Homo sapiens: one gene and its partner. The protein of the gene in region 1 interacts with the protein of each later gene in a pairwise test. Each region holds a gene or a part of one and is shown on either strand. Other genes may lie near its edges.

The links.
Region 2: the proteins of GBP7 (region 1) and CPNE2 interact in binary tests that used the Homo sapiens proteins (3 or more experiments, as listed by UniProt).

Annotation. Positions count from the first base shown.
Region 1 is NC_000001.11:89,172,739-89,181,002, forward strand, and holds the start of GBP7 (guanylate-binding protein 7), read right to left. Parts: upstream 3,266-8,264; 5' UTR 3,183-3,265; intron 1-3,182.
Region 2 is NC_000016.10:57,144,583-57,148,869, reverse strand, and holds the end of CPNE2 (copine-2), read right to left. Parts: intron 2,786-4,287; coding exon 2,549-2,785; intron 1,320-2,548; coding exon 1,212-1,319; 3' UTR 501-1,211; downstream 1-500.

The DNA of each region.
Region 1 (8,264 bases):
TGCAAATACAATCTCATCATACTTTTTTTTTTTTCAGCCACTACTTTTAGTTTTTATTGATGATTCTTTTTGTGGTGTTTGACTAAATAGGATTTTCTATTATAGTCATTCTTTCTATATTAACTGGAGTTCTACCGTGAGCAAGGGCTGTTCCTTCTTTATTTATTTTGTTTGCTCATTTAATCATTTACTTGTATCAATGCAGACTCAGAGATATTAGTTTTATTCTGAGGGTTTCAATACTTTACTGTCAATATTTGTTCTGTTACTCAACTTGTCCTAGATTTTGTCATTGAGAGCTTCTTCAAGCTGGATCCATTTTTTTTTTACATGCTTCCATCATATTTTCAGCGCTTCTTTCCTTTTTGGCTCCACAACGTATTCTAGAAAAAATATCTGTATTTTTCCTGCTTTATCCCTAGAATCTAACATTTCTCCCAGTATCTTTGGTTTCTTTCAATGGATAATGGTACTTTGACACCAATATATCACTCTAGGTGTGTTCATTATTTCTAGACCCACTCAGGGGCAAAGTTAAGAAATATATGTATGTATACTAGGACACATCTATATTTATTTTTATCTGTACATTTCTATAATAAAGCTTGAGATTCTGTTGATATTTCCAGTTCCAATCCAACACATCTGAGCTTATTCAAGCTTTTGACTTTCCTTTTTAAACTATTTTCTCCAAGTAAGCTAGACTTTGGTCTTCTAACACATAATACATTTGTTTCCTTGCTCAGTCCTAGTATATTCATATAGTAGTTTCAAAATTGATAATAAGTCTGTGGAAAAATAAATTTACTTCCTATAGAAAATTATTAGTGTACAGTTCTTTTGGTCTTTAGCCTTATATACACACTCAAAACATTGCATTCCAAAGTTGCTTAGGTTAGCTTTTTCCTTCTCCACCTTCTTCAGTATGGTTAAATTATTCATTTGTAAAACAGTTAGTTACATTTGTTACTGTTTGTGTTTCAGTTTGGCCTCCTTCACATCTTGGTATCTTGGTTGATTTTAAGTATGATTTATTTTTTGAGTTTGTGAAACATCATGGTTCTGAAATGCAGAGCTTTTCAAAAAGTTACAGTCAGAGAAGTGTCACTTTTCCTTCATCTTACCACTCCACTCACATTGCAGTGGTCTTCTATTCTTTCTACCACATTCCCACCCATCCTCCATAGATACCCAATCTTGTTAGTTTCTGGTTTACGCTTCTTGGATTTTCTTTTCTCAAATGAGAATGTACATATTTTCTTTTTCACATTTTCTAACACGAAGATCACATCATATAGAAATTTGGAAATCCCTCCACATCTGTTCATAGAAAGCTTTTAAAATCCTTTTAACATGTATCTACTCCTTTATGTGGATTATACCCCAGTTTATTCAATCACTCTTCAATGTATGGGCATTTAGATTGTTTCAAATATTTTGCAATTACAAACAATGCTGCAATGAATAACTCTGCTAACGTTATGCATGTGTATTTTTATATTGTTACAGGAGTAATTTCAGGATAGAGTCCTACCAACGGGATTGCTTGGTCAAAAGATGAGAGTATATAATTTTGTAGATATTGCCAAGTTCCTCTCCAGAAAGTTGTACAAGGTTGCATTCCCACCAGCTCATCTTGTATGTCATTTTCTAGAAAATGGAATTTTTCCTAGGTGCCCCGCTTGCTCTTCTGAATTAATTACAAAATTTCCTTTGGAAGCTTTTCACGTTCACATTTAGATCTTTGGACTGAGCAAAGCTGAGCTCGCTGAGCTCATGTATATAGTAGTAGTAATCTTCACCTGGGAAACATTGTGTTATACATATCTCTATACTTTGAAACATAGATACCATTCTAACCCATTCTTGGTCCTGATTTCTTGCAAGCCCCTCTGTGGGCAGGGTCTGGTCAGACTGTGGGACTCAGGTTACCCAATGGCTTCCTCCTCTCACTGTGCATCAGCATTCACACGTTATTCATGCAAGCCTGATAGCTCGCACCTGACACTTACTCTGTTGATTTTTGACTTGATTATGTTAACAGATTTTGAATTCTCTGCATTTGAAGATTGATTCTTTATTACCTCCATGTATATCAGTCTGCATATTGTTTTTAATTATTTCATGTAATGAAGTCACAGCATGAAACATTCTTTGAAAAACCATGGCTTGTTTTTTGTCTGATCTCTGCTGTATAGAGAGTAGCATATGCACAATTGTAATCATGCTATCTTTATCCAGGGCTTGATAAATTAAATATTTTGATAATTTTGTAAAGTTAAAAGGAGTGAAAAGCCTTCTTGTAGTGATGCTTTAATTTTGTGTTTTTAAGTTGAATGTCTCAATCCTTGTAACTTATGTGATCATGATACAAAATATATAATCTCTTTAAGATACAAGCAAATATAGATGATAGATACTGCAGTTTTCTTTTTTATCCTATAATAAAGAGTGGTTTGTTTCCACTATAGAGTTGGTTACTTCTGACTTGTTCCTCTGGAGGTTTATATTAAATTATCTGGCTTCCCATCACTTCAGCAGAAGATGGAAAAAAAGCCGTTTATTTTTCTGTGATCATGACCCATTTCCTCTTATAGCAATGGCCTACAGGATCTGCTGGCAAGCAAGAAGGGCAAACCAGAAACTAAAAAGATTGGGTATCTATGGAAGATGAGTGAAAACAGAGTATGCGTCTGTCCAATTCTGTAGCATATACTATGCTACCATAACATAGGAATCAATCAGTCACCGGCTCAGAAAGGTGGTGGCACAAAGATGTTATAAGGTCCTGGATTATAATAATGTGTTGCCTCTTTTTGCAGATCCCAAGTTGCCTACCTTCATTTACCTAGAGCTATAAATGTTGGGCCCAATAAAGAAAGTGACAGAGCCTATTAGGCAGATATTTAAAGATAACAGTAATTTAAGATGGTGTCAGAAAAGAAATAACAATCTTAGAACACTGGCTTCTCTGAATATCTGTTCCACCTCTGCTGAAGCCTAATCTGACACAGCAGGAATTAGAGCACACTAAGGTACACACAGCCACCTAAGAGGCCAGGATTTCATCTGGACTTGTATCCTGTAGCTGGCTCAGCTGCAGCCTATCTTGGGGATGGTCAACTTAGAGAAAACTAATGGATCCTTATAAATCATGAAATCCTTATAAGTCATAGTCTTACCCAGAGTAGAGATCCTCTGGACTTGGTAAGAAGGCAGCTTCAATGAGAAAGTTATGAGTCTTTATTCTCTTCTCTTTAGTTCTGAATTTGGCTGCACTGATTTCTCCCACTTTTTTTCTTGCTGGAACTTTGGACTTTTACCTTACCTCTCCAATGTCATGGGGCTTTCCAGACTTTCTAGAGACCTGTATTTATACATGTAAAAAACAATGCAACCTCTGCAAATAAATAGAGTAATATGACAGTCCATGATTTAGCAACAATAAAAGAAATTGCTGACAGCTGTGCTAGTGAGAGGATTTGACATAATTTCTCAAACAGAATCTTCCAATTTTATTATTGGAAGAGATCTTAGAGACAGCTTGCGATTATTAAAAAAACTTCAATGAATCGTTTAAAATAATGACATTCATCTCATGTTTGTGGGCCACATTGAGAAGTACAGGAATAAGAAAGCTTAATATAATATTATTTAGGTTCAATTGGCTTGAATATTAGACTCTTAAAATGGAACTCATTATTTGTGTTTAATAATGAGGACTCTAAATGCCCTGAAGGAATGTCCACGTCTTATACATGTTTGAATTATTAGCACCTAACTCAGGTCTTGGCACTTAACATTTAATAAATAATAATGAAGATAGTACCCGTTTTGTTTACATAGATTATCCCATTGTATTCTTATCACAAATACTTTTACCACAATGTTAAAAGAGGGATTTAATAATTTATTACAATTACAGAGCTACTAAATAAGATTTGGGCCCAAGAAGTCTTGCTGTCAGTCACTTCATTAAAATACCTCTGTGTTTGCTGAGTGTACAATAACAATGTTTTCTCCTTATCAGTTCCATTCTAGGCCATATTCTTTACACATACCATTTTAAATATCAAAATACCTCAAGATAAAGGTTGTTTATTATCCCCATTGTCCAAGGGGGAAAAATAATCAGAAAACGGGTAATTAATATGTCTAACTAAAGCCATTGAGCTACACACCAAGGTAGCAAGTAATTGAGCGAGATTCAAACTTGAAAATCCATTTGGTTAAAACCACATTGATTCTCTACTGCACATTGTCTCTAAAAGAGAGGAAGGTGGGAAGCGGGGAAGAGAGAGAGAGAAATGGAGAGCAGAGAGTAAGACTTCTCTGTGTGTGTGTGAATATTGATGAGATTTAAAGTGAAAGTAAGGCAGGGTTATTTCAAAACAGAACTATTGCTAGGAAATCACCTGCTTCTAAGTAATAAAATCTATTGTTTATATCATGCAAACAAAAAATAGCCCCAGGCAAAATTGAATCTTTGTGAATCATGTATAATTTAAGGGTACATAAATTTATAAGAAAAAAAGATCCCACTTTCCCAACTTGTGTTTTTTTTTTTTGAGACAGAGTTTCTCTCTTGTTGCCCAGGCTGGAGTGCAATGGTACAATCTTCGCTCACTGCAACCTCCACCTCCTGGGTTCAAGCGATTCTCCTGTCTCAGCCTCCTGAGTAGCTAGGATTACAGGCATGAGCCACCAAGCCCGGCTAATTTTGTATTTTTAGTAGAGATGGAGTTTCTCTATGTTGGTCAGGCTGATGTCGAACTCCCAATCTCAGGTGATCCACCCGCCTCAGCCTCCCAAGGTGTTGGAATTACAGGTGTGAGCCACCATGCCAGACCCCAGCTTGTTTTTAGAGTGTTTCTTTAGAGACAAGTGGGCCAGAGTCCTTTCTTTAACCTTTTGAATACAAATAGAGCTTTCTAGGGGCTAAATATCAGTGCCAGCTTTACAACCCAGAGATGTCTTCAAGAGTCTGGGCTCCATGCCTTTTGAAATGGAAATATCCAGAAAGACAGAGACCCAGGCTTCCTGACACTTTGGGAGCTTAAGCCCGGTGCCTATCCTGTCTATAGCCATTTCTTCCAAGGGAGATAAATTTTAATATTCTTTTAGATAAGCAAATGGCTACCACATTTCCAAGGTGAGCATAGGATGAAGAATACAAGGAAGGTATAGCAAATTTGAGGATGTACCAGCAAATTGTGTTGTCAATTCTCTAATGGGAAAACAGGATGGCATTGATCCTAGGGAAACATGTTATATATAAACCAGCTAAAAATAGTGCAGTGTAAATGCTGGGCGAGGTGGCTCACACCTGTAATCCCAGCACTTTGGGAGACTGAGGTGGGTGGATCACTTGAGGTCAGGAGCTTGAGACCAGCCTGGTCAACACAGTGAAACCCCGACTCTGCAAAAATACAAAAAAATTAGCCAGGTGTGGTGGTACATGCCTGTACTCCCAGCTACTAGGGAAGCTGAAGCAGGAGAATCGCTTGAACCTGGGAGGCAGAGGTTGCAGTGAGCCGAGATAGCACCACTGCACTTCAGCCTGGGTGACAGACTGACAGTCTCTCTCAAAAAATTATTTTATAAAACATGAATAAGAAAAGACATTAAAATTAAAATTAAAATGACTAACAGTCACCATTATTACATGTAATTGAGACTACTAAAATAGTTTTACATGCAAATTGTATAAGAAGAATAGAATGTGTTTTTTTTTTTTTTGTAAAACGTTATAAGAAGGTATGGAAAAGTAAATTATTGCCTAGGGTTAAACAATTGTTTTAAATTAAGATAAAGCTAAAAGTTCAAATAAGTGGTGGAAGGTTTCTAAAAATCTTGCAAAAGAAATTCTCTGTGTGAACATATTGACTAAATTCAGAAAGGTATTATATTGTTTTTCTGTAAACTGAGCATTAAAAGTACAATAAGGTTTTCTTAAGGCACTAATTTGCTCTTCGGCAAAATTTGTAAAGGGTTATAAAAGGCTTTTGCTTCTTTAATATTTCTGAGTCAACCTTTTGGCAAAATACATCATTCATGGTAATCTGGAATTCTATTTCATAGTATCAAGTGTTTTAAACTCCGAACATATTTAACAGCCTTCCCAAAATCAAACTTCAGTTTCAAAATTGTCTTTCCCGATGCCTGGCTTTTTGGAAGGATCAGGGGGCCCCTGAATCACCCAGAGAAGAGGTAAACAGGATTATTTAACATGTTTAGGTACATAGTATTGCCAAAATGTTGTTCAATCTTTAGGTTATATTTTTGTGAATAATGCTAATATATGTCCCAAAATTGTATGAGATTTCTAAAATTTTTAATGTCTAAGTACATGCTGTCAATTATAATTATAGTTATTATATTAAGTTATAGTAGACCACATAAATAACCAAATTTCCTTGTATAAAGCTACTAATCTAAGTAGAACAAAAAAATTAATTGAATAACCAGGTTTTGTTTTTCCTCTTGCAAATGTCTGTAACGAGCATTCTTAACAGCATAGGTATCCACCTCCTGAAGTTCCAGTTAAATCTTTTAACCAAATTCACTTTCTCTCACCTAGAGACCATCAAGCTTCAGAAGATCATGTGACAAATGTTCCAGCCAGTTCCAGTTGAAGACACCACCCCTGGCCATCAAGAAGCTACTCTGCCTCCACTAGACAGAGCAGGGTGACAGTTCCGTGATCCCCAATAGGTAGGGACTTTGCTTCAAGCCAGCATGAGGCAGTTACAGAAGAAAGACCATTAGTCACTCCACCTCCCATAAAGATTTATGGGGATGACATCTCTCAGGGAGGAAATGAGGCAGGAAAATAGGATCTGGAGGCATAGAACATAAGGCCTATTCACACTTCAGCTATGCCGGGAAATATTATCTCCATTTACATAGGGCATACACAAAGTAACCAATGGAAACCTCTAGAGGGTATTTAAATCCCCCAAAATTCTGTAACAGGACCCTTGAGCCCCTATGCTTGGGCCCACTCCCACACTGTGGAGTGTACTTCCATTTTCAATAAATATCTGCTTTTGTTGCTTCATTCTTTCCTTTCTTTGTGTGTTTTGTCCAATCCTTTGTTCAAGATACCAAGAACCTGGACACCCTCCACTGGTAACAATAAGCTTGAGGAACATAAAGTCAATGGAGTGTCCAGTCCCTCAGAGAGAACAGGGTGGCAGATTAAGACAACTGGGCATATTCTTTCTGACTCAGTGAGTCTTTTCTGCATGACTTCCTAAGATTGTATATTTTATGTTGAGAGCTCTAGAGATTGGGAATACAGTAAAGATATGGTAAATTGGGGACCTACTGGAGGGTAGAATATGTATTTAATCAACCCAAACTTGAGCCTCTGTGCTGGCTTTTGTAGTTGGAACTAAAGATAAGTTGATGAGGAAAATGAAGCGCCTGAGATCAAGAGGTGGTAGAGAGAAGTAAATAAGCATTTTTAATTTCACAGTTATATAAAAAGTTCAATGGTAGGAGTAACAAGTTGGTGCCATGGCAACCCAAAAGGGGCATCTCACCAAGCCTCAGAAAGTCAGGAACCAGGACATCTTAAGGATGAGCAGGATTTGGTAGACAAAGGATAGAAGGTGAGGAAGCAGGGTTGTTTTAAGAAGTCTTTGTCCCCTGCAAAAGGGCCCTCAGTCAAGAGAATACTAGTTGACAACCCAGGGAACGTTGTATTTGACCATATATTTGGGGATAAACTTTGAAATCTTGTTGAAAGGCCATAATAAAAACAAAATTAGGATGCATGTTTTGTGCCCTTTCTAGTTCTCTGTTCCAAAGAGAAGATGTTTCCTGTTGAGCAGACTTATGCTATTTCTAGTAATATTAATTACTTTCATCCTGTTGTGGGACCTCTGCCATCCATGTATTATGATTTCAATTTTTAATTTGAATAATTGTATTTATCCATTTTTGAATACATGATGAATTTACATAAAATGTTGAAGACATATATGATGTAGAGTTACCCTCTCATTTCTCACCTTAACTATTCAGTTCCATTCCTGGTATGACCAGGATACTAGTATATTTTTTATTTTTCCAGAGGGAGCTAATAATGTACACACATATTCATTAGTTCCTAAATTAAGTGGTAGCAGCATACTTTCTGCATCTTTTTTTTTTCTAATGCTATATCTTGGATACTTTCTCATAGTAGTACAAATAAAGCTTCCTTTTTCATTTTAGTGACTGTAGAATATTCCTTTGAAAGTATGTCCCAAAATTTA
Region 2 (4,287 bases), on another chromosome or scaffold:
GGCTGCAGTGAGCCGAGATCACACCACTGCACTCCAGCCTGGGTGGGACAGAGTGAGACCCTGTCTCAGAAAAAGTGCCTGCAAAATACTGAACACGGAGCTGGAAACAAAGTGCTTAATAGGAGGGTTAGCTGTTACTGGTTACACGGAAGCCCGTGTCCAGGGGGCTTACCTGGAGGTCCAAGCGGGAGTCAGGTGGATAAAGGAGAAAGAGGTGTTATGTGGAATAAAGGAGGGACCTGGGAGCGGGGCTGAACTTTCAGAGAGGGGTCCTCTGGCTGGTTTCATAAAACTGGGCCTGAGCCTAGAGAGGGGGATGTGGAAGAAACAGCAGGGTCAGAAGCAGCCCCATTTTGGGTCCTGAGGCCAGAGAGGCTTTCACAGACCTCTAGGTGGCCAACCCAAACACCCGGGAGACCCAAGGAGGAGCAGATGGGTGGCTGGGACTGCTGTCCAGTTGTGGGGTAGGGATATGTCAGAAACTGGTATGGGCCTGCACATTCATTCTATTCATCCATGAATATTTATTGAGTTTGTACAATGTGCCAGGTTCTGTGCCAGTTTAACAGGTTATCACTGTTAACTGGCAGTGATTTAACAGGTTATCATCTGGAATGCATGTCCCCATGCAGAAGTGACTACACCAACTTATTAGACTTGTGGGGTGGATTTTCATTTTCCATTTCCTTTCTTAGATCAGTGAGCCCGTCAGGTCCCTGCTGAGGAAGGAGCTGACGCAGGGACGTCTGAAACTCATTTGTTACCCTGAGCATATAACAAATAGAACACAGTCACAGTATTAAAAAAACAGCAGGAATTAATTAGGTGCAGGCTACGACACGTATGCACCAAGGACATGTTTCTTTCATCAGAGTCTGCAGCTAGTTACTTGGAAAAAGCCAGTTATGATTGTAAAAATTTTATTCTCAATAACAATTCCACTAAAATTATACAAAGTACATTCAATACTTAAGAATGGCAAAGGTGGGGAGAGGAGGAGAGGAAGCCAGTTTGGCCTGGAAGCATCAACAGTTGACTCCAACAAAGGAAGCCCAGCTGGGCTGGAGGAAGTTGGGGGTGGAGGTCCGGTTGTAAAAAATAAAAAAGGGGATCGGTAAAAAAAGGCCACCCACAAGGAAGCAGAGTGAGCGTGCATGTTCCTGGGGGAGGGCAGGAGGCTCAGCTGACATGCTGCTGCTGGGCACTGGAGCTCAGGCGGGCTCCGAGTTGGTGGGGGGCAGGTTTTTATGCTTGAAATACTGCACAACTTGTTGGGGCAGCTCCGCCAGCACAGCTTTGGCCAAGGTCTCTTTTGCTGCCTGCAGGGTGGAGGAGGGTGGGGTGGGGAAGAGAGAGAATAAGGATTAATGACCGGAAGTTGTGAGCGGCACTATGCCCAGAGGGCTGCTACAGCAGGTGTCCATTGAGGACAAAATTAGGGCTGCGGGCCAGGGCTGTCTGCAAGTGGCATCCCTCATCTCAGCCCAGGCCAGGCCTGAAATTCCCCCTGATCGCAGTGCCTTCCTTTAGGTTAGGTGTAAGTGTTACCTGGAGCACTTGAGATGCTTGGGAGTAACGGGTTAGGATGACTCCGTCTGCGGGAAGCACCTATGTGTCCGGCAAACATCTCCTGAGCACCTTCTTGGCGGGAATAAATGGGCCTGACAGTATGGTTCACTAGTGAACAGCCAGCCACAGGCCAGGCACATGGAGGTACTCGGTCACCGACCTGTGCATGAAGGGGTGACCGATGCCCAGGGTTTGTCCTTAGGAAGCGAATGCTCCAGAGGAAGGAGTAGAACCATCGCAGGCAACCCCAGAGGATGCTGGGAAGAGAGGTGAGGGCCACTGGGTGCAAACCAGCATGGGCAGTTCTTGCTGAGGCTGGGTTAAGCCCCCAGCCAGCAGTATGGGGGTGGCATTACAGTACAGCGGTACAGTGGAGAGACTGCTCCCCTATGGGACTCCTCATGGACCCTGCTGCTAGGGCAGTGATCAGGAGGCCAACCCCGGCCTCCTTGTGGGCAGATCTGGGATCACCTGCAAATAAAGCCAGAGCCACTTCCAGGAACAAGGCTGGGGACACCATTCTCCCAGGCAGAGGGCTTTAGGGAGAGGAGGTCAACCTAAGATGACTGGGAGGCCTTGTTTTCCGTCTACAAAATGAGGGGGCTTGCTGGGGCGTGATGATCAGGAAAACCCCTCTCTCCTCCTGCACTTTACACCACATGGATAGCCCCAGCCTCTCATCAGACCCCACTAGAGGGCAGGTCCTCCAGGAAGCCCTGCCCCAGAGCCTCAGGCTAGATGCCCACGGCTCCATGTTCCATCAGTTTGTGGAAGCAAGTGCTCACACTATCACAATGGCCACCACCGGGGCAAGGCCTGGCACGGCGCCTGGCACATGGCAGGCCCTCAGAAGAGCATAGTCAATGGAGTGGAGAAGTCTAGGATTGGGCCAGACAACCCCAAGACTCTCAAGCTTGATTATGAGCTATGGTGGCTGGGATCCTGTAACCGCCCCCTCCCAGCCCAGGCCCACACTCACGTTGCGGAACTCTCGAAAGGGAACGAACTGCACAATATCGCGGGCTGCCTCCTCCCCCGTGTGGGAGCGCAGCATGCGGCTGTCCCCATCCAGGAACTCCATGGCAGCGAAGTCCGCATTGCCCACGCCCACGATGATGATGGACATGGGCAGCTTGGAAGCCTGCACCACGGCATGCCGTGTCTCCTCCATGTCACTGATGACCCCGTCCGTGATGATGAGGAGGATGAAGTACTGCTGCAGGGAGGGGGCCAACGGGGCACTCAGCAAGGTCGAGGCTCTGGCACCCCTTCTCCCTCCCTCCTTCATCCCAAACCCTCCGAGTCCTGGAGGAAGGCAGTGCATCTTACCCAGCTGCAGCCAAGTCCCAGACAACTCACTATGCGTCCTGCTCTCAGCACCCCACCCCTGCAGGCCTCTCATGCTCTAAACTCTGACCTGGTCACAGCAGGAAGTACAAACTGCTCTCCCCTCCTGCCCTGTGTGTTATCTTAGACTCCCCCTTGGGGCCTCTGAGAGCCCTGGACTCTGGGCCTGGCCTTGCCAGTTGCTATACTGTGGGACTCTAGGCAACTGACTTGACTCGTAGTGCCTCAGTTTCTTCATCTGCAAAGTGGGAGTTGTTGCAGATAATGTGCCTGACGTGGCAGTGGCCCAGTCAGCTGCATTCCCGACAGGCCCACGGCTGGCGCAGGGGGACTCATCTGGCTGATGGGCTGCTCTGGGACCGGTCTCCCCCTCTCTGCTGCACCTGGGCATGGGCACCTGTGACCCCCTCCATTCCCTACTCAACACGACAATCTGAGACACCTTGCGGGAGCTAAAGCAGGTCGTCTGGGCCAGGGCTTCCAGGAGTGTGGGACTCTGCTGACAAATAAGTGGATTTGAGTCACATCCCAAACACAGCACTGAGCACCATCAAGTCATCAAGTCACCCCGGAAGAGGACTGGTTTGCAGTGGCCTTTCAATTCTATGAACTGCACCCAGGAGCAAGTCTTGGTTTGGTACTACTGTGTCTTTCACGTCTCTCTAACATTTGCTAAGCTTCCTTATCAACGGAAAGGGAAGGCAGGAAGCCCAGAGCTTGAGGAGACAATAGTCTCCAGCTAGGCTTTAATACCATTGTACAGCTTGTTGTGTTTATTTTTGTTACTCTCTATTTATGGCAAGTGATACTGCTTTTTTTCATTTACAATGGGATATAGAGTTTCTTTATAAATTAAATTTTAAAAATTGAATAATTAGTGTGGGAGATATATAAAATACAAACTGTGAAGTGGGGCCGGGGTGTGCCTGAGTGAAGTGCAGGAAGGCTCATTGGACCATCTGAGGGTGAGGGCCCAGGATTCCAAATTGGCCAAGAACTCTTTTTTCTTTTTTTTTTAGACTGAGTCTCGCTCCGTCGCCCACACTGGCACAACCTGGGCTCACTGCAACCTCCACCTCCTGGGTTCAAGTGATTCTCCTGCCTCAACCTCCCAAGTAGCTGGGATTACAGGCACCCACCACCATGCCCGACTAATTTTTGTATTTTCAGTAGAGTTGGGGTTTCACCACGTTGGCCAGGCTGGTCTCAAACTCCTGACCTCAGGTGATCCACCCGCCTTGGCTTCCCAAAGTGCTGGGATTACAGACGTGAGCCACCGCGCCCAGCCAAGAACTTATTTTCAGCTCAGCTCTGTCCTTAGTACCCGCTGACCCCTTTAGGGGAAGCTCAGTTTCCCCCATCCGTAACATC